Linked DNA regions of Homo sapiens. The protein of the gene in region 3 interacts with the protein of the main gene of each other region in a pairwise test. Each region holds a gene or a part of one and is shown on either strand. Other genes may lie near its edges. The genes, in order: SPTBN1, PCNT, TRAF3IP1 and WAC.

Region 1 (7,023 bases), about 180 Mb from region 3:
CTCTCTCTTTTTAATCCCTCTTGGGTAAGTGGTTATGAATAGCGAAAATATGTGAATGTCCTTGGCACTTTGAATCAATAAATGCCTTCTGTTTTGTGTGTATGTACAGAATACTGGGAAAAATTTTGTCATTAAGTTTTACTTTAACTTCTTTTCCCCTAAGATTGAATAGCCATAGTCTTTCAGATTTTAGCTGCCCAGATAACTGGAACATAGATAATTTTTTCCAAGTAGGAAGTGCGTGCCTTTATTGTCTAATAGATCCATGGTCTTTGATGACAAAGGACTTTATGAGATTTGCTAGTTTTTCCCTCAACAAAGAGTGAAATCAAAAATCTCACTACCTTTTGCTTTTAACCCCCTCCCACCCCCGCCCCCTGCCCCATTCCCTGTGTGGTGAATAGCCTGAGAATAGGGACAGTGCCCAAGAGTTCACCCACTTTCAGAGCCAGAGGGCTCCTGTGACCCACGTCGCTCTCCTTGACATCATTTCCAAAAAACAAATCTCGGGGAGCCTTTCCTGGCAGCAGCCCACAGTGGGAGTGGAAGGGCCTTGGAAGTGTTAATTCTGTAAGTACTTCTACTGGTTTTATGTGTCACTTCTAGATCTTTGTTGGTAGAACCATGAAGGATTTAAGGTGCCAATTTGTTGTGACAATAACTGGTGTAAAAGTGGGCTTCTCACGGTCACTCAGGAGAAGGGACATGGTCCCTTCAGTTGGTTACTTCTGATTCCAGGCTGGCTCTGCATTCTTTTGTGTATCTTCAGCCTGGGCAAACAAAAAGCTCTTCCTAGGTTAGCAAAGCAAATGGGGCGGGAATCAGGACTCTGGCATGGCCCTTACAGGCAGGCAGTAATGAGCCAGGGCCGATTCGGGATGGAAGCCAGCAAAAGTGGGTCTGGGCCTGGCGTTTGGCTGACCCCGGTAAGAGAGCTCCTTTCTCAGGTCTGTCAGCGGCCAGCAGCCTTTGTGCGGCTCTCTAGAGTTCAGATCCAAGCAGACATGTTGGGTCTCAAAATCAAGTCCTGTGAAGTGTTCTTGGTGTGAATGAAAGGTTCTTTAGAGAACTAGAGGCTATAGAAAAAGAGGTGAAGGTGACTCAAACTTGAAGGAAACATTGAAAGGGCATGATTGTTGCCTTAGCCCTACAGTGAGCAAGTTATTTATGCCTTTTTGCATTCCCTTCGATGCACCCACAAAAAGGGGGAGGTAATAAATAAGTAGTTTTTTTTTTTTTTTTTTAATAAAAAGAACTAAGAGAGTAAGAAGGATTGCCAAATGGAGTAAAAGTCAATCATGATTAACATGGTATAGCTGACACAGGTATTTGGAAGAGAAAAAGAGTCATGTCTTGGAGTGGTTAGGGTAGAATTTTAAACACGGGCCTTTTGTGGGGAAAGCCAGTTATGAGTGCCAAACAGTTTGAAAACTGGCTTATAGAGCTTTTGTACTTCTGGAATGAATGTTAGATATAGTTTGGAGCAGAGCTCAGGTACAAGCTCCATCTAATGGACACCTGTCATGACGGGTCAGAGTTGTGAAGTTAAATATTTGGTTGTCTGTCACCATGGAAACGTGTGTAGTATGCATAATATGACATAAACACAACCCTTTCCAGGCGGAAAAAAGGCTGATGTCTAGGATCACAATCTCTGAATCCTTCTGATCTTTCTGTAGCTGTCTCTCTGGATCAATGAGAAGATGCTCACAGCCCAGGACATGTCTTACGATGAAGCCAGAAATCTGCACAGTAAATGGTTGAAGCATCAAGCATTTATGGCAGAACTTGCATCCAACAAAGAATGGCTTGACAAAATCGAGAAGGTGAGTTAAAACATTTGATGTGGCCATGGTGAGAAAACAAACAGGGTAGTAATAAACTCCTTTTTATTTAGCACATTTTCCAGCATATCTGATCTTATCTGTACATTTACGTAAGTTACACAGCCAGTAATAGCTCCCTTTGCACGTACGGGTTCCTGACTTCAACCCATCAAAAGGGAAAAAAGCAGAAACCCAACCAGTTAGTAGAAAATGCTTGATTTATCGTAGAACGAATACTAGGCATTTAGTTTCTGTTGTGCCTCTCATCTGCTGTTGCTGATGGACTGTGAGCTCTCATGCAGGGATTCCACTGTCTTGATCATATTATTTGTGTTGTACTGTGACAGATTGCACATAATTTTAAATATATACATATTTTTTAAAATTGCTTTTTCCTATGAGACTACTGTATACCAGGCGCTATAATAATTACTATGATGTGTTATTCTTGCACAGAGAGATTCTGGGCAGCATAACTGAAGATGAATATGGAGTCCCCCCCTTCCCCCCGACTTCTCTCCTTTTAGACTTTTTATAGTGTTTCAGATTCTTCACGGTTAAAATAATGTGTTGGCAGGGCACGGTGGCTCATGCCTGTAATCCCAGCACTTTGGGAGGCCAAGGCAGATGGATCACTGGAGGCCAGGAGTTTCAGACCAGCTTGGCCAACATGGTGAAACCCCATCTCTATGAAGCATACAAAAATAGCCAGGCCTGGTGGTATGTGCCTGTAATCGCAGCTATTGGGGAGGCTGAGGCACGAGCCCAGGAGGCAGAGGTTGCAGTGAGCTGAGATCACGCCACTGTACTTCAGCCTGGGTGATAGAACGAGACTCTGTCTCAATATAATAACAATAATAATAATAATAATAATAATAATAATGTGTTGTATATCATCTTTGGTCATGGAATGGAGGAGATAAAGTCACGTTATTAGCATTCAGTATTCCGTTGCCCCAGTTGAGACTATTTCAGCATGTAACATTTATTGCTTAATTCCCATGAAACCCTTGTAATGTACACAACCTAGGGGTCGTTGTTGATTTTATTGAGCAGTAACTTCATGTGGAAAGACTGTGTGTATTGAGTGAATGGTTAAATCACAGATCAAATGTCCTAGGTTTGTTTTTCACAGTGACATTTTTTCTGTAGCAAACTTGTTTATTTACAACCATGTTGGTTTTGTTTTCCAGGAAGGAATGCAGCTCATTTCAGAAAAGCCTGAGACGGAAGCTGTGGTGAAGGAGAAACTCACTGGTTTACATAAAATGTGGGAAGTCCTTGAATCCACTACCCAGACAAAGGCCCAGCGGCTCTTTGATGCAAACAAGGCCGAACTTTTCACCCAGAGCTGTGCAGATCTAGACAAATGGCTGCACGGCCTGGAGAGTCAGATTCAGTCTGATGACTATGGCAAAGACCTGACCAGTGTCAATATCCTGCTGAAAAAGCAACAGGCAAGTGGACAAGCCATCATGGACTTGGGTGTATTTCTGTTTTACAGCCATAGTCCTTAGAGTCTTTTCTCACCCACTGCATTATCAGGAGTCCACCTTCCATGGGAAGGCATTTTTAACCCAAAATATTACTTGCTCTAACAGCATCGTAGAACATTTCCAGAATAGAAAGACACTTGTCCAAACTAGAAAGACACAGTATTAGGAGTATTGGGTGTTGGCTGTCTGTGTATGGGATTGATAATTTTCTTAGTTAATGGGTATTATCACCGTTTAACAGTTAAATAAATGTTCATCTCATTCAATTCTGCATTTTACACGAAAGAAATATTCTCATACTTTGTTGTTTAACATCGTGATTTGTGACAGTTATCTGAGTTGTTCAAGGCACTTTATAGGTAATAAAAATAACTGTTTATATTATATCACCGTAGAGGGCTTTAAGGGCAAATGAATTTACCTCAGATTTACTTGAAAACAGTTCCATTGATGTTGAAAAGCAAGTCAGTGGCAAAATGTTTGAGTGGCTCCCATGGCTGGCTTTGCGGTGTGGCCAAGTCCCAGGCCCAGCAGTTCTGCTTAGAGCCAGTCACTGCAAAAGATAGTCTGTGCTGAGCGCTGAGGCTGCTTCTCTGCCCTCAGATGCTGGAGAATCAGATGGAAGTGCGGAAGAAGGAGATCGAAGAGCTCCAAAGCCAAGCCCAGGCCCTGAGTCAGGAAGGGAAGAGCACCGACGAGGTAGACAGCAAGCGCCTCACCGTGCAGACCAAGTTCATGGAGTTGCTGGAGCCCTTGAACGAGAGGAAGCATAACCTGCTGGCCTCCAAAGAGATCCATCAGTTCAACAGGGATGTGGAGGACGAGATCGTGAGTCGACCCCTACTGCACACATGGCTTTTCCACGAGCCCCCTTGCCTGTGCTAAAGCCCACATTCTCACTTCTCAGTCATCCTCACCTTGGGCCACGTTGGCAAGCTGAGCTGCCAAAGTCCACGCTCTGGATGGTCTAAAGTTTCTTTCCCTTTTCACCCTAAATGTAACTCCATTGGTCCTCTCACGTTATCTAGGGATACTGTAGGATTTTAATGGCCCTAAAACAGACTTTTTAAAAGTAATGAGGACTCACAGTGAGTTTGACCTTGAGGATGAGGTAGAGTTGGAAAGACTCTCCCTAGCCCTGTCTCGGAGAACAAGGGCGTGCTTCCCCAGACAGCCCTCCCGAGGGGGCTGAGCACTCTCTGAAGCTCACCCTTGCTGTCCCTCACTGCCCCTCACTGCTCGTTTGTGTCGTATATTTGTTCCTCTGAGTGGATCTGACCACTTATTTAAAATTCTTCCCAGTTGTGGGTTGGAGAGAGGATGCCTTTGGCAACTTCCACGGATCATGGCCACAACCTCCAGACTGTGCAGCTGTTAATAAAGAAAAATCAGGTAAGCCTTTCTGCTCGAGCTAGTTCTGTCTGATAAATAATTGCTCTAAATTATGAGACTGGGAATGGCAGAGAGCTTTGAAGCCTTGCTATTTCTTTCTGGCCCTAACAGCTTGACATAAGCAGCAGACGGCTGCCATTTAGCAAGCCTTTGTGTGTATTTTCCGCTCCCTCCAGACCCTCCAGAAAGAAATCCAGGGGCACCAGCCTCGCATTGACGACATCTTTGAGAGGAGCCAAAACATCGTCACTGACAGCAGCAGCCTCAGCGCTGAGGCCATCAGACAGAGGCTTGCCGACCTGAAGCAGCTGTGGGGTCTCCTCATTGAGGAGACAGAGAAACGCCACAGGCGGCTGGAGGAGGCGCACAGGGCCCAGCAGTACTACTTTGACGCTGCTGAGGCCGAAGCCTGGATGAGCGAGCAGGAGCTGTACATGATGTCAGAGGAGAAGGCCAAGGTGAGAGGAGGCGGGAAGCATCCCTGTCCCAGGAGAGCCTCAGATTCAAACCCTGGGCACACTTTCTGCTGGCGGCTCTGTCTGTATAAAAACTTCCCTTGTAGCCTTTGAGTGTTAAGGGGACACCATGTGCATGAAGGTGTCTGAAATCCAGCTGCTGGTTTCCCTTTGGTGCAGCATTTTCTTATCTGAATCCTAGTGTGCCATTAAGAACAGGTTCATCCTTTCATCTTTGAAATATGCCAGAGTCCTTCCTGCTGTCTATTTATAGGTTCCCTAAACTTTACAAAATACAGGATGGCTTGGAGACAATTTGAAAGTATTGCAAGGTTCCAGGAATGCTGCCATTTACATACTTGAGGGACCTTGAGGAATTCCAGCGAACCAGGCACACTTGGTCTGCCCAAGCTTTTCTCTGAGAGGGGCCCTGCTCATTCTGCGTTCTCCTTGTGTTTATCTTCTGCACAGGCTTCTGTGGTCCAGTCCATATGGAAGCTCTTGGAACACTTCTGTGTTCCACTGTCCGTACTGCACCTCTGGAGTTTTTCTTTCTACTGATCCTTCCTCCTACCCTGCTGAGCAGCTGGTCTGTCACTCCTTAAGGGGTAGGGCCAGAGGGGACCGCTATGGTTGTGATGTTCTCCTGTCTTTGCAGGATGAGCAGAGTGCTGTCTCCATGTTGAAGAAGCACCAGATCTTAGAACAAGCTGTGGAGGACTATGCAGAGACCGTGCATCAGCTCTCCAAGACCAGCCGGGCCCTGGTGGCCGACAGCCATCCTGAAAGGTGAGCGCTGCTTCATGAGTGTGAGACCCGGCTCTCGATTCCTCTCAGTTAGGGTCTCTTGCTAACCCCCACCAAAAGAAAATGTCAGCATTCATCATGACTTGCTGGTAAGGCAAATCTTTGAGAAGCATTTTTAAAACAGACCCATCATTTAAAACATCCTATCATGATTAGGATGGGTGAACTGTTATATTAGGAAATTGCTCTTGTGGGTTAAATATCTCCCGTTGGCCAAGGCTCTCCTGAAAGAATATTGGTGTCGTGAGTCAAAAGTACAGGTTGACTAGGCTGGGCAGTCAACGTAAAGTGGCTTACACTTGTAATCCCAGCACTTTACCAAGCCAAGGTGGGAGGATTGCTTGAGCCCAGGGGGCCAAAGACCAATCTCGGCAATGTGGCGAAACCTCATCTCTACAAAAAATACAAAAAATCAGCTGGGTGTGGTGGCACACGTCTGTACTACTCAGCTATTCAAGAGGCTGAGGTTGGGAGGATGGTTTGAGTCCAGGAGTTTGAGTCTACAGTGAACCATGTTCACACTGCTGCACTCCAGCCTGGGTGACAGAGTGAGACCTTGTCTCAAAAAAATAAAAATGATCAGAAGTACAGGTTGACTTGCATGGTGGATACAGATAGTCATAGCACTTACACTTGGGTTGAAAAAGTCATCCAGTTTAGTAAAGTAATTACTAGTTTTAAGAGGAGCATTAGACAAGAATGCATAGACCTGTAAAATGAAGGGGCTCCCAGGAAGAACAAAGTGATAACACCTCCTAACTCTTCGATATCAAGTGATTAGAACACCTTCGAGGAAAAAGAAGAGGTGAGTGTGTGGTACTCATCAGGCCCCTGTATTAACTTCCAAAGCAGTCATTTTAGGATTTTTGTGTAAATGCCTTTTATGACTTGGAAAGGAATTGGCCTTGTGCATTTAACCAGGGCAGGTTAGGGGAGATGAGGTCAGTGGCTCTGTTGGTGTAGGAGGTTCTTAAGATGTTCATGATCAGGATTCCCAGGAAAGTGGCCTTCCTAGTCTCCAGGGATAGGCACCAACATGTCCTTTGT
Region 2 (7,174 bases), on a different chromosome or scaffold from region 3:
GAATGGCATGAACCCGGGAGGCGGAGCTTGCAGTGAGCCGAGATCGCGCCACTGCACTCCAGCCTGGGAGACAGAGCGAGAATCCATCTCAAAAAAATAAAAAATAAAATAAAAAGAATAAAACCATAAAAATTTACTCACTGTTTTTTTTTTTTTGAGAGAGAGTCTCGCTCTGTCACCCAGTCTGGAGTGCATTGGCGTGATCTCGGCTCAATGCAACCTCTGCCTCACAAGTTGAAGCTATTCTCCTCCCTCAACCTCCCGAGTAGCTGGGATTACAGGTGTGCGCCAGATGTCCGGCTAATTTTTGTATTTTTAGTATAGACAGGGTTTCTCCATGTTGGCCAGGCTGGTCTGGAACTCCTGACCTCAGGTGATCCGCCTGCCTCGGCCTCCCAAAGTGCGGGGATTACAGGCGTAAGCCACTGCACCCGGCCCTCACTTTTTATAAACTAAAATAACACCCTCTTTCCTCACTTTTGAAAGGCAAAAACAGACCAAAGACCATCTTTAGTAAATCACACTAGAAATCACTAGAAGATAAGCGAAATGTTCAAATACAACATTGAGCAAATCTACCTGAGCTGCAAAGGCCCCTCCTGCCCCATCAGGGGTGTCGTCACATGATGTGCTTTTGCAAATGTCCCCTCCTCCACAGAGTGCGCTGTCCTCCTTGGTTACCGGACTCTCCTCCTGGACAGACGCATCGACAGCCGAGCCCTTCCTCTTCGCCGTCTTTTTCTCCGAATGCGAACTGTCACCTTTTGTTTTTCTCTGTCGGAAGTGAGCAAGCTGCGCAAAAATGTAGATAAGTAGTAAAGGCAAAGGTAAGTGAGAAAAAAATAACAGAACCACAAAGTCAACAGACTGGTGGGGACCATGAGGCCCGAGGGCTGACCCAGTCTACTCTGCCACACCTGGCCAACAGATGGCTCTCCACAAACACTGCCTTCATCAATATCTATATCCAAGGGGTCTAACAATGAGGACTGCTAATTATGCCTGGTAAAGAAAACCATACGGCTGATTGGCAGAATAGCTTTCCTAGCCCTTGGCAGTTTACAGAAAAATAAAACTTTAAAAAAAATTTGTATAAAAGATTGATAGCTTAATCAAGGCATATTTAAGTTTTAAAATGATATAAAAGCTAAATCTCTCCCTTCTTGCCCCAATTTTCCCCCAACTGAAGAAATATATAGCCCAGCCAAAACTTCCTAGCCATAGATTCTGAGACAAGATACAGAAATAGCAAAAAATTAATTAAGCCAGGTCAATCTCACATCTTCCTTTATGGAATCAGATGTTCTATTTTTCATGACACAGCTCACCAAAGCACCAGGGACATCCACAGAGCATCGCCCATCAGAAGGCACAGCCTAGCTCTGCTCAGTCCTCAAATCCGAGAGTTTGAGACTATGTGCGAGCCTCATCTCCCGCTAACGTCTTACTCAAGAGGTATGCGATCGATCCCACATCAGCCTTTCACGGGGAGACATCTGTTCCCTCAAAAGACAACTGTGGCCACAAAAACAAACGCATGGAACACACATTTGTGTAAATGATAACACAAGTACACAAGCTCATGGACCCAGAAAAATTACACAAGGCCATTTACACAAGAAAATGGTCTCTCAAGGAAATATTTCCTTCAAAGTCAACCTCATGTCGTTTATTTTCATGTCCTCCTCCACCACACCTATCCATGTCGGGATATAGCACAGACCTGGTCTGCGGCCTGCGTCGCCCTACAGGCGGCGTCTTGTCCCTCCCTCCCCCCTCCACCCTCCTGGGAGCTCTGCTCCTGTTCGCAGCTCCCTGCAGGCTCCGGGCTCCCCTTCCCCTCCTGCCCGCCTCAGCCCTTCCCCGGCCTAGCCCCGCGTCCCCTGTCCGCCGTGCCCGGGAGCCCCGCTCTTCCCCAGCACCCCAGCCAGAACATCCTGGGGGGGAGCGGCGCGCACCTCGCAGAGGCCGGCCTGCTCCCGCGGTTCCGCCTCGCGCTTTCGGGACTCCCTTTCTCCTGCCCCCGAGTCATGGGCTCTGCGCGCTTTATTCCCACGAAACCTAGGACAGTGGCCATCAAACCGAGCGCTTTTTCACGGAGAAACCCGGGGCGGGAGAAAGACGGGAGCGCGTCCCTTGAAGGCGCCCGGCGCCAGCGCCGCGTGGGTTCCCGGCAGCGTACGCCAGGCCCGGACGGGCAGGACGCGAGCCCAAGGGCGCGGGAAGAAGACGGCGGCCGGGAGCGCCGCGGGGGCCTTTCACACAGTAAGGACTGCAACGCCGCGAGAAACGCGCGGGGAAAGCATCTCCGACGGACGAGGCGAAGGCGCACCCTGGGGAGGCGCTGCAGGCCACCCGCGCCACGCCCCCGGCCCCGGCCGCGCAGGAAACTGGCCCTAGACCAAGCAGCCACCCGAATACCGGCCGCCCGCCCCAGGCCACCCGGTCCCGGAGGACGCGGGAGCCACTGGAAGATCCAGCCTGGGGTCCAGCGCCTGCCGCGCCCCACCCCCTCCGTGCAGCCACGCCACGCCCCTGTAGCCCCGCCCTGCAGCCACACCCCGCCCCGGCGTGCACCGCGCCCAGCCCGCGCCCCACCCCCCCCGACGCAGGCGCAGCCCCGCCCCGGCCCGCCCGAGAGGCGCCGCGCGTCCCGGCCGCTGATTGGCTGTGGCCGCGGCGGGGGCGGGACCTGGCGGAGAGCGGCGGATTCAAGATGGCGGCGGCCAGGAGGCGGCTTCCAGCGGAGCCGGCGGGAAAAAGCGAGACCTCCGCGGCGGCTTCCGCCGGACCGCGTCCTCTCCTGGCAGGGGGCGGTGGCGGGCACCGGAGCCGCCCTTAGGACTTCACGCCAGAGCAGCTAGAGAAGAAGCCCCTAATGTTTACCTTCGTCCTCCCGGCCTCCACCTTTCTGCGCCGCTGCTCTTGCTCAACTTCCATCTCCCTCAGACTCCGCGCGGGCCGCCCGGCGGTGACGGGGCTGACACAGAGCAGCCTTCGCTCTATTTACACTCCCTCCCCCGCGCTTGGGCTCGCCCTCCCCCCGCGACAACTGTCACGCAGCCGCGGCCCCGCCCCCGACACGCGCCGCCAATCAGGGGGCTGCGTTTCCGGTCTCGCGCACGCGCGCTCTGGGCGGTGCAGCCTGGGCGGAGCCCCGCCCTTTACGCTCGCCGGCCACAGATTGGTGCGCTCACGTACCCGCCTCCTACGGCAGGACCAGTAAGCGGAAAGCGGAGGCCTGGCGCCCGCTGTGATTGGCCGATTTTAAAATCCCCTGCCAGGCTGGCCGAGCGGCAAAAAGTTCGCGCTGCTGGTCCCGCGCGGGCGGCCCCTGGGCTTTGTGTCCACCAGGACAGCGGGCCGGGCTCCCTGCAGGCGCGGGCGGCGCCGAACGGTGCTCAGCAACCACCCGGACAGGGCCAGGCCGTTTTCTCCCGCTCAGGCATTAGTCGTTGGCTGTGGGCCGCCGCGGGAAGTTGAGGCCTACCACGGAGGAGGCTGCTGAGGTGGATCTCAGGGGATCCGCAAGGGCTCCCTCACCCTTGCCGGGACCCTGGGAACCCGAAACAAAATCCTACGCCACCAGCCCGCCGAATGCGCCCCCTCGGCCGGGGGTCCTGGGTCTTCAGAGAAGAACTCGGCCGAATGCGGTCAGAAAGCCCGCGAACCGCCTGGACCTGCAGGCCCCGCCGCTTGGAGCTCCCGCCTTTCCCGACCGAGCCCGTGTCTGCTCGTGTGTCTCACTGATGTCTTAGGTCTCAAAAAAAAAAGAAAAGAAAAGGTTTTTAGTAGACAGAAGAGAAATGGGGCCGTGGGTTCGTGGTCCCAGGGGGAAACTGACGTCGCATGAGGTCGTCGTCCCTCAGCTTGAGCTCAGCGGAACATAAGCTTGCAGAGGTGGAAACCACGGAAGGTTTGGGTGTCTTGGAGCTCTCTGGACACCGAAGCCCGGACACAGTCCCGGGGTCCGCACCGCCTGTGACCTGTGGCGGGACCGCCGGGGTGGGCGTTTTCTCAGCTGGCGCGCGCGTAGGTGGAACTTGGGAAACTAACTGGAGCGAAGTGGCAAAAAACCAAGACAGGGCCGGTGACCTCGCGCAGGCCGTCCTTAACTGTGGAGTATTCCTTCAGCTAACCCCTTTATTTCATGTGTCCAAGTCTGGTTTCTGGGTTTCTTTGTAGTCCTCCGGGCCTGTTCGTGCGCCTTCACTTGCAAAAGGTTCGTCGTGGAGGGCCGTGTGCTTGTTTGCAGCAGTAACGATGCCCTTCCCGAGCGTGCTGGAGTGGCTCCTCGCTGACGCAAGCTCACCTTGCAGCCTCCTCAGCAACTGCAACTTAAACGCGCCCTCAGGAAGCCCTGGAATCTCGCTCAGAATTTTTTTTCTTTTTTTGAGACAGTCTCGCTGCGACGCCCAGGCTATAGCGCAATGGCGCGATCTCGGCTCCCTGCAACCTCCCTCAGGAAGCCGTGGAAGCTCGACCGCCAGAAACTTCCTTCTCCTGACTCAGGCCACAGTCTTCTGTGTGGTGAGCGGGGTGTCCAGCGGTCTCCTGGTTCCCAGACTCGGAATTGGGTGGTTTGAGCAAACTCTGGGCAGTGGGCTCATTAGAGCAGGGGCCAGGCAGGCAACACAGCCAAGCGAGCAGGGGCTGCACCCACAGGATCACACTTTCCAGGAACAGAGACCCAGACCGCGCCTGAATCTCACAACTGTTACGTGTTACAATACATTTACAACTGTGGGACTGAGGGGATGTGCCCAGGTTTGCCTAGACTGTGTTCCTCAGAACCCCAGAGTCGTTTCTGTGGACATCCTAGAGAGGTTCTGCTAATGTTGGACTTGGGTCTTATTTCAGTTCTTTTTTCTTTTCTTTTTTATAGGCAGGGTCTCAGTCTGTCACACAGGCTAGAGTGCAGTGGTGAGACCACCGCTCATTGCAGCCTCAACTTCCCCGGGCTCAGGTGATTCTCCATGTCAGCCTCCTGAGCAGCTGGAATTACAGGCACACCACCATGCCCAGCTAATTTTTGTATTTTTAGTAGACACAGGGTCTCACTGTGTTGCCCAGGCTGGTCTTGAACTCCTGGGCTCAAGTGATCCACCTGCCTTGGCCTCTCAAAGTGCTGGAGTTACAGGCATGAGCAACCTCGCCCAGCCTCAATTCATTTTAAACTATTAAAAAGCTGTCAAGGCCAGGCAACCACTGCACTCCAACCTGGGTGACAGACTGAGACCCTAACTCAAAAAAAAAAAAAAAAAAAAGCTGCCCAGATAAATTTTGTAGATACTCACCCTCAAGGAGGGAAACGTAACTCCCCTCTCCTTAAGTGTAGACCACACATAGCCACTTCCTCCCAAAGAGTGCAATAAAGAAAAGGAGGGAAAGAGCCACTTTATTGTGGAGAAAACTGGCAGACTCCACCTCAGCCAAGTGACGCAGGTCAGCCTCACAGTTATAGTCGAGGTGACAGTGTGTGTCCCTGATGTGATGGGGTGACAGTGGCACTTCACCCCTAGATGCTTCCTTTCTGTAACCTGCAGTCCCAGTCTAACCAGGAGATAATAGACACATTTTAATTGAGGGACATTCTTCAAAATATCTGCCCAGTACTCTTCGAAACTGTCAAGGTCATCAAAAACGAGGAAAGTCTGAGAAGGAGCCTAAAGACACATAACTCAATGTAATGGGGTGTTCTGATGGATACCACATTAGGGACATGAGGCAAACCTAAGGAAACTGTCAAAGTGTGGACTTCAGTTACTTGTGTCTCAATATTGGTTCATTAATCATAACAAATGGGCCAGGTGCACTGGCTTTCACTCAAAAATTAGCTGGGCATGATGGCACGTACCTGTAGTCCCAGCTACTCGAGAGGCTGAGGCAGAAGAATCGCTTGAAACTGGGAAGCAGAGGTTGCAGTGAGCCAAGATTGCACCATTGCACTCTAGCCTGGGCGTCGCAGCGAGACTCTGTCTCAAAAAAAATATATATATATATAACATATGTAGCACACTAAGGTAAGATGTTAATAAGAGGGGAAGCCACACATGTGGTATGTGGGATCTCCATGTACTATCTTCTCAATTACTCTAAATCTAAAACTGTTCTTAAAAACCCTATTTAAAAAAAAAGTCTGACAAATCCATGCCCTCTGGAGCATGTTATGTATACTACTAGAGATCCCGAGGAGGCAATTCTTAGTGCTTCCCATTCACTTGGCAGTCACAGCTGTGGGCACACAGGCTCAAGTCTCTCCTTAAGTCAGTCAGTATTACAAACCATACATAATAGTATACTTGACCACTGCATAAATGTTATAAACATTCCACATCAAGAGAAAGAGGAGAGGAAAAAAAGTTAACCAGTTCAACGAAAAGGAGAATCTGGCAAGGAAGCATCTCTGATGTGGGCAGAGCCTGCAGCAGCAGATGTGGAGGGCTTCTCACAAGTGACAGCAAGACTGTCTGTAAAACGGCCACTTTGACCTGGTGGTGTTCTGCTCTTTTCATGGCCATAGAGTACTCTGGTAAGGACTGATAGTAAGAGTGTCTTGTTTATGTCTTTATCTGGGTGGGTGCAGTATCTACTGATGAGGAAACATCTGGTCCCTGTTGGCCTGATACCCTTTTTTTTTTTTTTTTTTTTTTTTTGAGGTGGAGTTACACTCTTGTTGCCCAGGATGGAGTGCAGTAGTGGTGCCACCTTGGCTCACTGCAACTTCCGCCTGCCTGGCCCTATCTTATAATTTAAAAGGCATCAGGGGCCAGGTGCTATGGCTCACACCTCTAATCCTAGCACTTTGGGAGGCCAAGACGGCAGATCACTTGAGGTCAGGAGTTCGAGACCAGTCTGGCCAACATGGTGAAACCCCATCTCTACCAAAAATACAAAGATTAACTGGGCGTGGTGGCGTGCACCTGTACTCCCAGCTACTCGGGAGGCTGAGGCAGGAGAATCACTTGAACCCGGGAGGCGGAGGTTGCAGTGAGCTGAGATGGCTCCACCTCTGCACTCCAGCCTGGGCAACGAGCAAAACTCCATCTCAAAAAAAAATACATAAGATGGAGTCCTTTTCTCAGATGAGGTCACTTATATCAAGGGTGCTCTATACAGTTGCTTAACTAAATTAACCTGGTTTTTGTTCTGTGCACACTCAGAGCTGTTTAAA
Region 3 (7,023 bases):
TTTTTGAGACAGGCTTGCTCTGTCATCCAAGCTGGAGTGCAGCAGTGCAATCACAGCTCACTGCAACCTCTGCTTCCTGGGCTCAAGCGATTCTTGTGCTTCAGCCTCCTGAGTAGCTGGGACTACAAGTGTGCACCACCATGCCCAGCTAATGTTTGCATTCTTAGTAGAAAGGGGATTGGCCATGTTGGCCAGGATGATCTCAAACTCATAGCCTCAAGCAATCCGCCCACCTTGGCTTCCTAAAGTGCTGGGATTACAGGTGTAAGTCACTGCGCCTGGCCACATTTTTATTTATTTAAAAAAAAAATGTAGCAGGAGAATGGCGTGAATCCGGGAGGCGGAGCTTGCAGTGAGCCGAGATCGCGCCACTGCACTCCAGCCTGGGCAACAGAGCGAGATTCTGACTCAAAAAAAAAAAAAAATGTAACAAAAATGTTTTAAGAAGACCAACAAGTTAAATTTAAGTCTGATGTTTATCAATATCCTAAAGAAAATCATACAGACACTTGCTGATTTTCCCCTAACTGTAACATACATCAACCCTGACTTTGAAGTTCTCACTGACCACTCTTTTTCAAAACAGCAGATGTTTACCAAAAAAGGACACTTTTCCTTTCATCTTCTGAAGCCCAAAGATTTACCAATCTGAAATAATTTACTCTTCCAAGGAGACTTTGAAACACAATCCTAATATGCTTTGCGTAAAAATCATAGCTATAAAATTGAAACCAATGGAGGCTTCAAAGGTGACCTCCACTAGGAGCCTGGAGGGACACATTCAGGGTTTTCGACTGGGTCTCAGAAATACCACCAGGGACACCAGGACAACCCCTCATGCATACAGAAAGGACTATAATGTATTAACATTCCATCAATGAAAAAACAAACTGCAGAAGGCATTTCTCCTTTCAGCAAGGCAAACAGTGGTGCTGTCAGCAAAGCCTCCGCCGACAACATTCTCCAGTTATTATTGTTAAAAGGGCTCCCTCTACTGTTAGTCTCAATTGCACAGTTCTCATTGGCTATTTCAGGCCCTAGCTTTGTGACAAACTAGGACATGTTAAGCAAAATTATCTAAAACAACCATTAATTCAGCTGGGGAGAAATACATATATGTGTGCATGTGTGTGTACGTATGTGTGCACACATCCCTATATATAAAACTTTTTTAAATTGTTGAGTTATTAGGCTAAATATCCAAGAAACTTCTGTTTAAAAGAAAAAAAAAATTCTTCTTCCTCTTTAAAGTGACTGTAAGAGAAACCTGGCTGTGGCATTTGAGACACACCCTGTTGGCCCACAGGTGCCCGCCCTAGTGGTCATGTGCCCAAGGAAAGGGTAGTGGCTGGCAAGAGGCCACAGGTCCCAACAAAAGCACATCACACATGTGTGAGGGAGACTGCGGGGAACCAGGTACAATAGAACATGTATTTAAAAAAAAGACTTAAAAACATTCCCGGCCAGGCGCGGTGGCTCACGCCTGTAATCCCAGCACTTTGGGAGGCCAAGGTGGGTGGATCACGAGGTCAGGAGATCGAGACCATCCTGGCTAACACGGTAAAACCCCGTCTCTACTAAAAATACAAAATATTAGCTAGGAGCAGTGTCGAGCACCTGTAGTCCCAGCTACACGGGAGGCTGAGGCAGGAGAATGGCGTGAACCCGGGAGGCGGAGCTTGCAGTGAGCCGAGATCATGCCACTGCTCTCCAGCCTGGGCGACAGAGCGAGACTCTACCTCAAAAAAAAAAAAAAAAAAATTCCCAGTCTCTTACTTTGCAATCAGCCAGGATCAGGCAGCCAGCCTCCCAGTCTGCAAACAGGACCTGGGAGAAGGGATGGGCAAGGCCAGAAGGGGAGAGTCAGGGAGTCAGAGCCCAACAGGCCTTTGGCTCTTGGCTCCTGAGCTCCCCAAGTAAGCCGCTGCCCCCTCCCAAGACGGGGCTGGATACCAGGCCAGGGAAGTAGCCCCACAGAGGAAGTCCCACACTTTATATCCTCCCAACTGGGAGGAGGGAGGAATGGCTTTTTTTTTCTTTCTGAGGCAGGGTCTCACTCCGTTGCCCAGGCTGGAGTGCCGTGGCACAATCTCAATCCACTACAACCTCCACCTCCCAGGTTCAAGCGATTCTCCTGCCTCAGCCCCCCAAGTAGCTGGGACTACAGGCATGCGCCACCACACCCGGGTAATTTTTGTATTTTTTGTAAAGACAGGGTTTCACCATGTTGCCCAGGCTGGTCTCGAACTCCTGGGCTCAGGTAAGCTGTCTGCGCTGGCCTCCCAAGGTGCTGGGATTGCAGGCGTGAGCCACCATGCCTGGCCAGGAATGGCATTTAAATATGCAAACAGACATCACTGATAATGGTAATATTGAAAGATGCTCCAACTTGTAAAAGTCTGTAAATGCATGAAACAGACTGCTAAAATGCCAGTGTTTATGGAAATCATTCCATTACCTTCTCCCCAGGTTTGGGTGACTGCTGCAATTTCTCATAATCTTTCTTCGTCTCCAAAATTTTTTTCACAAGTCCACCTGTTGAAAAATCAGTGATTTTATGTTAAAAGTTTATTCTCTATCCCAAAAACCTATTCTAAATGGGTGGGATGGTGGGAAAAACACTAAGTTTTTATCCTATCTCTTTTTATGCTGAAACAGTTTCAAATAATCTTTATTTGTTAAGGAGATAGTACACAAGAGTGATAGACAGCTGGTAGTGGAAATTATCACATTTCAAAGTGTTTCAGGGAAATCAGCTCCTTGAAAAGTAAAAAGCTTTAGAAATAAAATAGATTTTCTATTTTCAAAGATTAAGAAGGAGTGTAGATTGACATCCAAAAATATAGCCATTTATTACAAACAGAAATAACAAGAAATGCTTCTAAGTACGGATACTTCTTTTACACTGGGGCAAGACTATTCCACTTCTTTCAGAATTTACTCATGGGATAAATATCATGTGAAGTTTTTTGGAATAGTGTTTCACCCAAGCATACATCAGCCCGAGGCTGACTGAATAAACGAGGGTACGTCCACACGGTGGAGGACGACGTGGCTATGAAGGAAATGAGGATGGTTTCTCTGCATTGCTGCAAAATGAAAGCCTGCATCTGCTGTCAAATTAAAAAGAGCAAGATGGAAATAAGTGTAGGTATCAGTAAATACACATGCACATGCATATGCATTTATTTATTTGTTTGTTTTTCAAATGTAAGTATAAGCCCTATTTTACTGTTACCTACAGGGAGAGGGAGAGTAGAGGGTAGAGGAGACAGGGAGAGTAGAGGGTAGAGGAGACAGGGAGAGTAGAGGGTAGAGAAGACGGGTCAAAGCCCCACATTTCTGATTATACCTGGTTTTGTACATCTGACCTTAAAATCATGCGAATTATCTTACATTAAAAAGGTAAACAACACTAATGCCTAAAGGTTGAATGCAAAATGAAATAAACTTAGTGATATCCAATTGGCAAGCATGCGCCACTAGAGAATTGTTTCACAACTTTAAAACAGGGTAACTGACTGTACATCCCTAATAGGATATACCCAACAAACAGGCAGACATACCTACCAAAAAAAAAAAAGTCCTTGGGCTGGGCTTGGTGGCTCACACCTGTAATACCAGCGCTTTGGGAGGCCAAGGGGGCCGATCACAAGGTCAGGAGTTCGAGACCAGCCTGGCCAACATGGTGAAACCCCGTCTCTACTAAAAATACAAAAAAATAACTGGGTGTGGTGGTGGGCGCCTGTAATCCCAGTTACTCAGGAGGCTGAGGCAGGAGAATCTTTTGACCCCGGGAGGCAGAGGTTGCAGTGAGCCAAGATCGCGCCACTGCACTCCAGCCTGGGCGACAGGGCGAGACTCCATGTCAAAAATAAATACATAAATAAAAATAAATAAAATAAAATAAAATAAAATCCTTCAGCGTTTCCAGTAATCCTATTGTTGTTAAAAACCAGTCGTGGTGTTCTAAAATTGCTATGTGAGCATATGAAGGATCATAAAGCATGGGGACAGCCGCTGCTGCTGGGAGCCAGGCTTTTTGGCATGAGATGGAAGAGATGCATATATAAAACCAAAGAATGCAGGCAAAACCCTACAATCCTAAATCGGAATTGGAAATATCATCACTAAGTCAGAATATACTTTCTTATTTTAAAAAAGTATATCCCTGCTTTTGCAGTGAAAATGCCTGGAAACAAGAAGCAACCCAGAGCAGTAAGCGGCCAGGTGCCTTGGAGAAATGAGGCAGTTATGGGGCAGGAAGTACACAAAATAAGCTGGAAACACCTTGTCGTATCAGAAAACAAGGAAGCTAAAGAGTGTACTGGGATGTGTCTAAAGGCCCCCAGAAAATAACTCCAATAGGCTCCCCTGGTCAAATACTGGGCAATCTGAACATTAATAAGAAAAACTGAGATGGGCTGAAATGAAACACATCCACTATGTTAAAAATCCGTGACTAGGCTGGGCACAGTGGCCCATGCCTGTAATCCCAGCACTTTGGGAGGCCAAGGCGGGTGGATCACTTGAGGTTAGAAATTGGAGACCAGCCTGGCCAACGTAGCGAAAACCTGTCTCTACTAAAAATACAAAAATTGGCCAGGCATAGTGGTGCACGCCTGTAGTCCCAGCTACTTGTGAGGCTGAGGCACGAGAATCACTTCAACCCGGGAGGCAGAGGTTGCAGTAAGTTGAGATAGCACCACTGAACTCCAGCCTGGGTGACAGGGCAAGACTCCGCCTCAAATAAAAAAGGGTGGCTTCATATAGATACCAAAAAAAACCCCAAACCCCCAAAACCAACAAGCCCTCGTTACTCACCTGTGATAGGTGCCAGGAAACAAAGTCATATTGTGAGAACAGATCTATAAAGGAAAGTACTCAGCCTGCCTCTTCTGCAGAAACTGTGTTCCAGGATACTCAAACCCTGGTGTGGGGAACGGGGTTTGCACTACTGAGTTGTCCAGCTAGAAAACCAACAATAACATTCCAGAACTAGACTTGCAAAGGGCCTCAGAGATCATCTACTTCCACAATTTAATCGTACGGAAGAGACGAGATGTCATCTGCAGGACAGTTGCCAGTGAGTTTCCAGCTTCCAACTGTGCCCTCCCCCTCCTCTAAGGATGGGGAGCAGCAGCCATCGCCTTAAGAGTAATCCATGCCCGCAGGGTCCTATGTACCACCAGTGTGATCCCGCCAGTGTGACCCAGACCAGAACCTGGCACACAACAGTCCCTTGCACTGGATCCTTCCAGGCCCACGTGGAGAAGGTGCATGAGCACACACACATGGACATACATGCACACTCGTGCCCAGGACTCACCATGCTTCTCCTCTTCTTCTAGTTCCACTGCTGTTACCTGAGCAGGAAAGGAAGGGGGAAAAAGAAGATTCAGGCTTGTTGAATTTTAAAGATCATGCTTCTGTGGATCTCAAAAAAAGAACAACAAAATTAACGAAGGTAGAAAACTAACTGAAAAATTACAGGACATTTTTGTCTACATAAATCTAAAAGCTAGACTATTAATCTCAATGAAGGTAAAACATTATTATTAAAAAACATCATATTTCGGTTAACTAACCATTTCAATTTCTGACATTTCAGAGAGCTGAGGGGCAGCTTCCACCACAAATTGATCATCCTCTTCATTGTCAGAATTGTGTGACTCTGTAATCACATTTGAAACGGTTTTACCACTCCCTGACCTAAATAAAAAGAAATTAGATTAAATTAGAATTACACATTTTCATCAGTCCCAAGCATCTGAAACTGTGTCAGAGGTCGGCAGAGAGGAATCTAATCACCAACCATCTCTAGCTAGAACAGCATCTCAAGCTACCCGCTGAAGCTAAGATGGACTGTCTGCAAACAGTGTCCTCTGCAAGCCCTCCAGGCCTGAGTCCCTGTGAGCCTCGCCCTCCACCCCCACCCAGCTTCCCCACGTCCCTGTGCTGCCCAGGCCTCCTGGTCCACACCTGGCCTCCCGTCCCCACAGCCTCGTCATGCCCTCTACTGCACAAAGACCCTCAGGGCCTCCGCCTCTCCCCTGACTGCGCTCTCAGTGACACCAGCCCTTCACCTGCTGCTTTCTACCTGGAGGCGCTTATTGCCCTGGGTCACAAACCTCAGGGCAGGGGCCACATTGGGGTCCCACTGACCAGGGCTGACCCCAGACCTCTCTTCACACAGCCAGCTGGAGGCCCCTCATTCAACTCCTAGTCACAGTGGCTGCCCTATGTCCCGCTCAGCACCACGTACACACTGCGCTCCACCCAAGTCCACATCATTCTGGGCAAGTCAGCGTCCAACAGCCTGGCCCTCCAGCCCCAGACCTTGTCCTCCTTGGTGACAGCCTTCACCCAAGGGCTCTCTCATGCTCTCCAGGGCCACCTACTAGAACTGCCCCACCTACAGCTGCCCCACTCCTCCTCACTCAGGCCACTGTCAGCTCACTCTGTACAAATGTGAGCCCCCGACCCAAACACTCTACAGGCTCCTTAATGGCCCCTCCTGCCTTTGTTTCTTCCCTACACACTTGTGCTTTAAGCAATCACCTAACTCCCCCTGCCCCGTTATCGCAGTGCTGCATGCGTGCACATGCATACACACACACACACACACACACGCATACACACAAGCACATGCACGCACACGCGCGCGCGCGCACACACACACACACACACACACACACACACACCAAAATCCTCCCTTGCTTCAGTGCCATGCACAAGGTCCAGAGGGAATGTAGACACTTGGGAACGACCTCTGAAAATAACACCCATTGCCCCAAACATCCTCGACTTCCTCAACTGGGTCCTTGAGACACTCAACAACCACCTGTGTGGCTCCGCCAGGACCAACCTCACTTCGAACCCGCTGCTCTGTCAGTACCAGGAAGTCCAGGCTCCCGTCCCTCGTCTCTCACGCTCCCAGCACACCCTCACTGTGGCCCACGATCCACCTCCTCAACACCTGCGCCCCTGTGCCTGCCGTGATCGGCAGGCCCTCTCTGTCCC
Region 4 (6,994 bases), on a different chromosome or scaffold from region 3:
TGTGAGCCAAGCAAGTACTAAGGGGGAAGAGGATTCCAGGCAAAGGGACAGCAGTGCAAAGGTCCTGAGGCAGAGGCATGCTTGGTATACTGGAGAAAACAGGGAGGGAGGGTAGAATGGTGGGAAAAGAATGAGAAAGCAGGGCTGAGCGCGGTGGCTCACGCCTGTAATCCCAGCACTTTGGGAGGCTGAGGTGGGTGGATCACGAGGTCAAGAGATGGAGACCATCCTGGCCAACATGGTGAAACCCCGTCTCTACTAAAAATACAAAAATTAGCTGGGTGTGGTGGCACGTGCCTGTAGTCCCAGCTACTCAGGAGGCTGAGGCAGGAGCATTGCTTGAACCTGGGAGGCAGAGGTTGCAGTGAGCCAAGATCATCCCACTGCACTCCAGCCTGGCGACAGTGAGAATCAGTCTCAAACAAAAACAAAAACAAAAACAAAAAAAGAGCAAATAAAGAAGTCAGTGGATAAGAAGCCAGAAGTAACAGGCAGTTTACATATGGCCTAGTGGATCATGGCTATAACTTTGGCTTTTATTCAAGATTGGAATATTATCTGACTTTTTAAGGGATTACTGCACTGTATGAGACAGCAAACAATGTGGAAGCAGGCATAGAAGGGCAAGATCAGTTAGAAAGCCTTTGCCACGGTCCAGGTTTAATGATGGTGGCTTGGACCAGAGTGAACTTGCTGGAGGTGGGTTACAGAGATCAGATTGTGGATACATTTTGAAGGTAATGCTGGCAAAATTTGTTGATGGAGTCAATGTGAGATATAAAACAATCAAAGATGACTCCAAAGTTTTTAGCCTCCACTAGAAGAATGGAGTTGTCATTTCAAGAGATTGGGAAGATCTCAGCAGGACTTGTTTGGGGTGGGGGGAGATTAAGAGTTTCGTTTTGAATACATTAAGTTTGTGATGCCTGTTAGAAACTCAAGCAGTGCTATACAGTAGGCAGTTAAGTGTGAGTCTTGTGTTCAGAGGAAAGGTGTGGACTGGAAATTCAAATGTGGGTTTCATCCAGCCAGAGATCTGAATGAGATTGCCTAGGGAGAGAGAACAGAGGAGTGCGGGTTGTAAGATTTGAATCTCACGCCACTCCAGCATTTAGAGGCTGGAAAAGAAGGAGAAACCAGTAAGGAGTCTAAGGAACAGCCATTTGGGAAGGAAGAGAAGCAAGAAAGAAAATGAAATCCTGGTAGGCAAGATAAGGAACTTTAAGGAGAAGAAAGTTATCAGCTGTGTCAAATGCTGCTGACAAGTGGAGATGAAGACTGAGAAATAAAAATCAGACTTGAAAACATGGATGCTACAGATGATCTTGAACAGGTCCAGAAGTGTGGGAATGAAGTCTGTGGGTTCGAGAGAGAAGTAAAGATAAAGTATTTCTGTAAAGGAGAGCAGATCAGACTTTTGATAATGTGGTTTTATTTAGAGACAGTGTCTCACTGTCACCCAGACTGGAGTGCAGTGGCAAGATCTTGGCTCACCACAACCTCCGCCTCCCAGGCCCAAGTGATTCTCCTGCCTCAGTCTCCCGAATAACTGGGATTACAGGCGCACACCACCACACCTGGCTAACTTTTATATTTTTAGTACAGATGGGGTTTCAAAATGTTGGCCAGGCTAGTCTCAAACTCCAGACCTCAAAATGATCCACCTGACTTGGCCTCCCAAGGTGCTGGGATTACAGGCATGACCCACTGCATCCGGCCTATTTACTTTTTGAGACAGGGTCTCCCTCTGTCGTCCAGGCTGGAGTGCACTGGTGTGATCATGACTCACTGCAGTCTCGAACTCCTGGACTAAAGTGATTGTTCAGCTTCAGCCTCTGGGAGTAGCTAGGAATACAGGCATGCATCACCATGCCTGGCTACTTTTGAGCAAATGGTTTATACCAATTTCAGCAGACATCTAGTTATCAAACAAATTAGTAGTAATTTTGCTGCCAGTTTTCAAAGTTTCTATGAAATGTTATTTGTTGTACTCCTCTGATGTTTGTCTTCAATGGATTCACTACAAATATGTCAGAAATTACATGTTAAGATGCTACCGAATTTTTTTGTTTTCATAATTTCAGTCACTGTCAATTTTTTTTTTTAGTTACTGGTAGTTTAAGAGAGCATTAAATAGGCTTTTTATTGGTCTGCACATCTCCACAAACAGCAATAAGCTCTACATCTGGCAGATGGATGTGACAAATAAGATTATGTAATTAAAATTTTTTTTCCAACCAGTTGTGATTTCAGAGCCTTTCTCCCTACATCATTCCATCTCTCCATTCTATTAGGTCTAGCAATAACGTAACTTCTTGGATACCAAGTAAATCAGTTACTTTTTATTTTTTGGAGGGGGTTGTTTCTTCTGACTTGTTTACTATTTGCCTCTTCTGTGTTAATCACCTAATTATGTTTACCACAATTCTTTTCATTAAACTATGTTGCCTTACAAATAGTGCAAAAAAAAAAAAAAAAGTCAACCAATCACCCGAATACCACCACTCTCAACTAACGGTTGTTTGGTATACTTCACGTTTCTTCTCTCAATGTACCTGCAGCAGTACATAAAATCAAATTTGTAGCAATTTCACTTAACACACCTGAGAACTTTCACATGAATTTTCTTTCACCAATGGACTTCAGCGAGGAAGAAACAGAGGAGGGAAAAGTGAGAGATAAAGAGAGGGTGGGCAGGGCACCGCTGGGTATGGAAAACGTTAGAAAGGGATGGAAAACGTTAGAAAGGGGTGAAAAGCCGAGCGCAGTGGCTCACGCCTGTAATCCCAGCACTTTGGGAGGCCGAGGCGGGAGGATCGCTTCAGGCCAGGGGTTCGAGACCAGCCTGGGTAACACAGCGAGACCCTATCTCCGGAAAAACTTTTTTTAAAAAATTAGCCGGGTGTGGTGGTGCATGCCCGTGGTGCCAGCTACTTAGAGGGCTGAGGTGGGATGACCCGTAAGCCCCGGAGGTCGAGGCTGCAGTGAGCCGTGATCGCGTCACTGCACTCAGACTGGACGACAGCGCGAGACCTGTCTCAAAAAAAAATAACAAGGGGTAGGGTGGGGCAGTGAGATGGTTCAGCGTTGTTCCCAAGGAACTCATCTCCCTAAATTTCCAGTCTCAAGCGCCGCTTTCATTCCCTGCCCCGAGCGGCGCTCCCCGCTCCGTGCACGCATCTCCGCTGAGGGCCGCCCTGACGCACGGCCTTCTGCCTTGAACACAGAACCCCTCAGCCCTTCCTATTAGCCGTTTCTGGCCGGGACTGCACGCGCTCCTTCCTGCCTCGGGGCGCAGGGTGAGACTTACGTCTAAAGGGCGCCCGGCGAGCTCGCAGCAGCCCCTGCCCCGCGGAGGGCCGGTGGCGCGCGGCGTCCGGTGAGGGGCAGCGGCCCGGGCTCGGTTCCGGCTTCCAGCAGCGGCCCGAAGGCGCCGGAGCACGCTCCCCGCTCCCCAGAACGCAGCTTCCGCGGCTGCAGCCCAGGCAGCTCTTCGGGAAGCGTCCGCCCGTGGTCTCGCCAGGGGGTTTCCGACCTCCCCGCCCGACAGCGCAGGGGCGGGGGCCGCGGCCGGAGAGCTCGCCCGAGAGCACCCCCTCCCGCTGCGCCTCTGGGCGCACGCGCAGCCGCTGCAGCCTCCCTTATTTAGTCCGCGATGGCTTCCCTCGCGCCCCACCGTCCTCTTCCGGAAGGCGGCTCCCTCCCTGCGCAGCCCGGAGCCCCTGAGATCAGCCTCGAGCAGGCGCCCGAGCGAGACTATCCCTAAACGGGAACGGCGGTGGCCGACTCGCGAGTGAGGAAAAGAAGGAAAGGGCAGACTGGTCGCGAAGAGAAGATCCAGGCCTCAGAGGAGGAGAAAGGCCGGAGCCAGCCGAGGTTTGCCGAGGGCGGTGTTCCGGACCCGCGCGGTGCGGGGAGGAAGGCCGAGGGTGGGAGAGGAGGGGCCCGGCGGAAACTGCCGAGGTTTCCCGAAGGCGGCAGCGTCCGAGTTGCCCGGATGTAGTTGGTGGAGCGGCAGCGGCGGCACCAGCGGCGGCGGCGGCGGCGGGAGGAGGAGGAGGAGAAGAAGGACCAGGCGGCGGCAGCAGCGGCGGCGGCGGGGGGAGGAGGGGAGGAGGCGGCGGAGCAGGAGGAGGAGAAGGCGGAGGAGGCAGTCGCTCTCCGCGGGGCTGAGCCGGACGCGTCGTCTTGCCCCCCTCCCCCCGGTTCGCGGTGCCGCCGTGTAGTTGGCGCCGCTGCCCCGGCTGAGAGTGAGCGTGGTGTCGACGGAGGGAGATGGCCCGGGAGCGCCGGCGCCAGTAACTGGGAGCTGATGAGAGTCGCCGAGGGCGCGCCGGGCCCAGGTGCCGGGGCTGCCCGCCGCCCGCCGCCGCCGCCGCCTGCGCGCCCGCCCGCCTTTCGCGGCCGCTCTCCCCCCTCCCCGACACACACTCACAGGCCGGGCATTGATGGTAATGTATGCGAGGAAACAGCAGAGACTCAGTGATGGGTAAATTGTCTTTTCGTTTCGGGCCGGGCGGCGGCGGGGGGCGGCGGCGGGGGGGCTGTTCCTCCTTATCTGGAGCTGGCCGGGCCGCCATTTTTGTTGTTAACCCTGATCCGGATCGGGTTGGGGAGGAGGAGCGGCCGCGCGGGCGGGCGGGCGGGAACGCAGTGTGGCGGGGAGCGGGGGCCCGGCTTCGCGGCATTTCGCCCTCTCCGGCCCTTCCGGAGGCTCCGGGTTTGTGCCGTGTGCGTGCGGGGCTCGGCGCTGGGGCGCTCGGTAGGTCTCCCGCGGGGAGGGGCGGCGGGGGCCCCGTTTTCTTCCTCCCCGGCCCCCCACCCGCGCCGTGTCTTATGTCGCTGCCTTCTCTTCCTGTTTTTCAGCTGTCACGACCGGAGGGGGGACTCGCAGCCTTACCAGGTACCAGCCGAGGCCGGGGTGGAGGGATTGGAAGGGGCCGGAGGGGGAAGGGAGGGACTGCTACTCGAGCGCAGGCCTCAGAAGTCGATACAGGCCCTTCGGTGCAACACATCTGAAACTAGCACCGCGGATCCCCTTAAAATTCCAGGTTTGGTTCCTTTAGCGCTCTCCAGCAAGGTTTAGTGACTTATTTTGACAGGTGACTGGAGGGAGTTCGCTGATTTAGGAAAAAAGAATCATTTGCAGCCAGAAAGACCTGACTCGATTATTTGATTATTTGCGAGTGAAGGAATCGATGGGATGAGATGATAGGTGACTTACGAGGCTTATTTATTTATTTATTGTGTTGGGGGAACTGAAAAGTTAATGTAAAGGTATTAAAATTAAGTGAAGAACTTGGGTAAATAGCTAAATGACTTACAACTTTCAAGTCGGTTATAAAGTACTACCCTTTCCCCTTTTAATATTTTTGGTATACTTAATTGCCTTACAAGTAAAAGATATGTGTGCTTTTGTTTCTGTAAGAATTGAGGTCTTTGGGTACTTGGATAATCATTCTGATGTAGGTGGTTCTAGGTAGGTGGGTTCCTTTTTGTTACTGCAGTCATTGTGTGTGAAGTTCTAAGGATTATGATGAAAGTGGCCCCAATTTTCAGGAGGGAAACCTCATAATGATTGTTAACCATCAGATGACTGCAGAAAACACTTTCTACATCTTAAAGGACTAGAGAGCAGGTTTCTAACCTGATGGTTGTGTTATACAGCTGAATTTGAAAACACTGTCTTCTGATATGTAAAACATTGGATATGTCAAAAATTAAACTTTACTGAATCTGTCCTCCAAAGCATAGCTGATTACACATTGCAACAGATTAGTACATCATGATTGTCTTAAGATATGTGTTAGAATAAAGCTAAACGATTATTTTGAGCGCATTATGCTTAGTTAGAAATAGTACTCACATTAGTTTATTTTGGTTAGTATTTTTATACCTTAAAATTGTTTCCCACACCTGGGAGAGTAAGGAAGTTAGGTCTGAAATGCTTTATTTGAATCAAAGAATTGGAGAAACTGGTGTGTGGGTTTTTTTTTTTTTTTTTGGTAGGTTTGCAAAAATATGCATGTGCTTATTTATACATGTGTTTGTGTATATCAGCTGTAGAGCAGAAATTGATTATAGTAGTACTGAATTTCTAGTTTTCTTTTGACTATCAAAAAATGATTCTAAATATTCTCAGCCAAATTTTTTTATTTTTTGCAGAATCAGTGTGCAAGGTGGTTTATAAGATAATGGAGTGGGTTTTTTTTGTGTTTAGTGTGATTTGTTATCAGGAGTCTTATTGTAACGCTTAAGCATTAGGTTTTTTGTCTGAGAAACTTTAAAGAGTAAAGCAGAATTGAAAGTGGAAATTTTAATTTTGTAAGTTCATAAAATTTAATGATAATACACCAAAGTTTATGTTTAAATTAGGGAGTTTAAGGTTTCAATTCTTTCTCTCTTTTTTTGGGGGGGTGATGTTTTACAGGCACTTAAGTATTCATCGAAGAGTCACCCCAGTAGCGGTGATCACAGACATGAAAAGATGCGAGACGCCGGAGATCCTTCACCACCAAATAAAATGTTGCGGAGATCTGATAGTCCTGAAAACAAATACAGTGACAGCACAGGTCACAGTAAGGCCAAAAATGTGCATACTCACAGAGTTAGAGAGAGGGATGGTGGTGAGTATCTTTCTTGTTGAAACTTTGACATACAGTTTTAACAATAGCTCTATATAAAAGGCGGCAGTAGTATTTCTAGCTTGAAGAAGTTACTGTTCAGTTATGTCATTAAAATATTTTAATCCTATCATTTTTTTTTTACTCTGAACAAGTTACTGTAGAAACAAGATGCTGATGTGAGCATCTAAAAAGTGGACTCTTAAGGCCAGGCGCGGTGGCTCACGCCTGTAATCTCAGCACTTGGGAGGCCGAGGCGGGCAGATCACCTGAGGTCAGGAGTTCAAGACCAGCCTGGCCAGCAGGTGAAAACCCATCTCTACTAAAAATACAAAAGTTAGTTGGGCATGGTGGTGGTGGCAGGCGCCTGT

What was found.
Region 1: the proteins of TRAF3IP1 (region 3) and SPTBN1 interact in a two-hybrid assay, tested with the Homo sapiens proteins (2 studies listed by BioGRID and IntAct).
Region 2: the proteins of TRAF3IP1 (region 3) and PCNT interact in a two-hybrid assay, tested with the Homo sapiens proteins (2 studies listed by BioGRID and IntAct).
Region 4: the proteins of TRAF3IP1 (region 3) and WAC interact in a two-hybrid assay, tested with the Homo sapiens proteins (2 studies listed by BioGRID and IntAct).

Annotation. Positions count from the first base shown.
Region 1 is NC_000002.12:54,641,304-54,648,326, forward strand, and holds part of SPTBN1 (spectrin beta chain, non-erythrocytic 1), read left to right. Parts: intron 1-1,679; coding exon 1,680-1,826; intron 1,827-3,019; coding exon 3,020-3,283; intron 3,284-3,925; coding exon 3,926-4,150; intron 4,151-4,624; coding exon 4,625-4,714; intron 4,715-4,890; coding exon 4,891-5,172; intron 5,173-5,827; coding exon 5,828-5,958; intron 5,959-7,023. UniProt on the Homo sapiens protein: Fodrin, which seems to be involved in secretion, interacts with calmodulin in a calcium-dependent manner and is thus candidate for the calcium-dependent movement of the cytoskeleton at the membrane.
Region 2 is NC_000021.9:46,319,995-46,327,168, reverse strand, and holds the start of PCNT (pericentrin), read right to left. Parts: upstream 3,014-7,174; 5' UTR 2,941-3,013; coding exon 2,887-2,940; intron 2,503-2,886; exon of another isoform or gene 1,959-2,502; intron 882-1,958; coding exon of another isoform or gene 793-881; coding exon 580-792; intron 1-579. Other genes in the region: uncharacterized LOC128092249, read right to left, coding at 678-881; uncharacterized protein C21orf58, read left to right, coding at 4,431-4,530. UniProt on the Homo sapiens protein: Integral component of the filamentous matrix of the centrosome involved in the initial establishment of organized microtubule arrays in both mitosis and meiosis. Plays a role, together with DISC1, in the microtubule network formation.
Region 3 is NC_000002.12:238,351,516-238,358,538, reverse strand, and holds part of TRAF3IP1 (TRAF3-interacting protein 1), read right to left. Parts: intron 5,713-7,023; coding exon 5,589-5,712; intron 5,367-5,588; coding exon 5,330-5,366; intron 2,536-5,329; coding exon 2,459-2,535; intron 1-2,458.
Region 4 is NC_000010.11:28,529,132-28,536,125, forward strand, and holds the start of WAC (WW domain-containing adapter protein with coiled-coil), read left to right. Parts: upstream 1-3,986; 5' UTR 3,987-4,312; coding exon of another isoform or gene 4,313-4,448; coding exon 4,449-4,489; intron 4,490-4,866; coding exon 4,867-4,903; coding exon of another isoform or gene 4,904-5,051; intron 5,052-5,102; exon of another isoform or gene 5,103-5,215; intron 5,216-6,412; coding exon of another isoform or gene 6,413-6,430; coding exon 6,431-6,626; intron 6,627-6,994.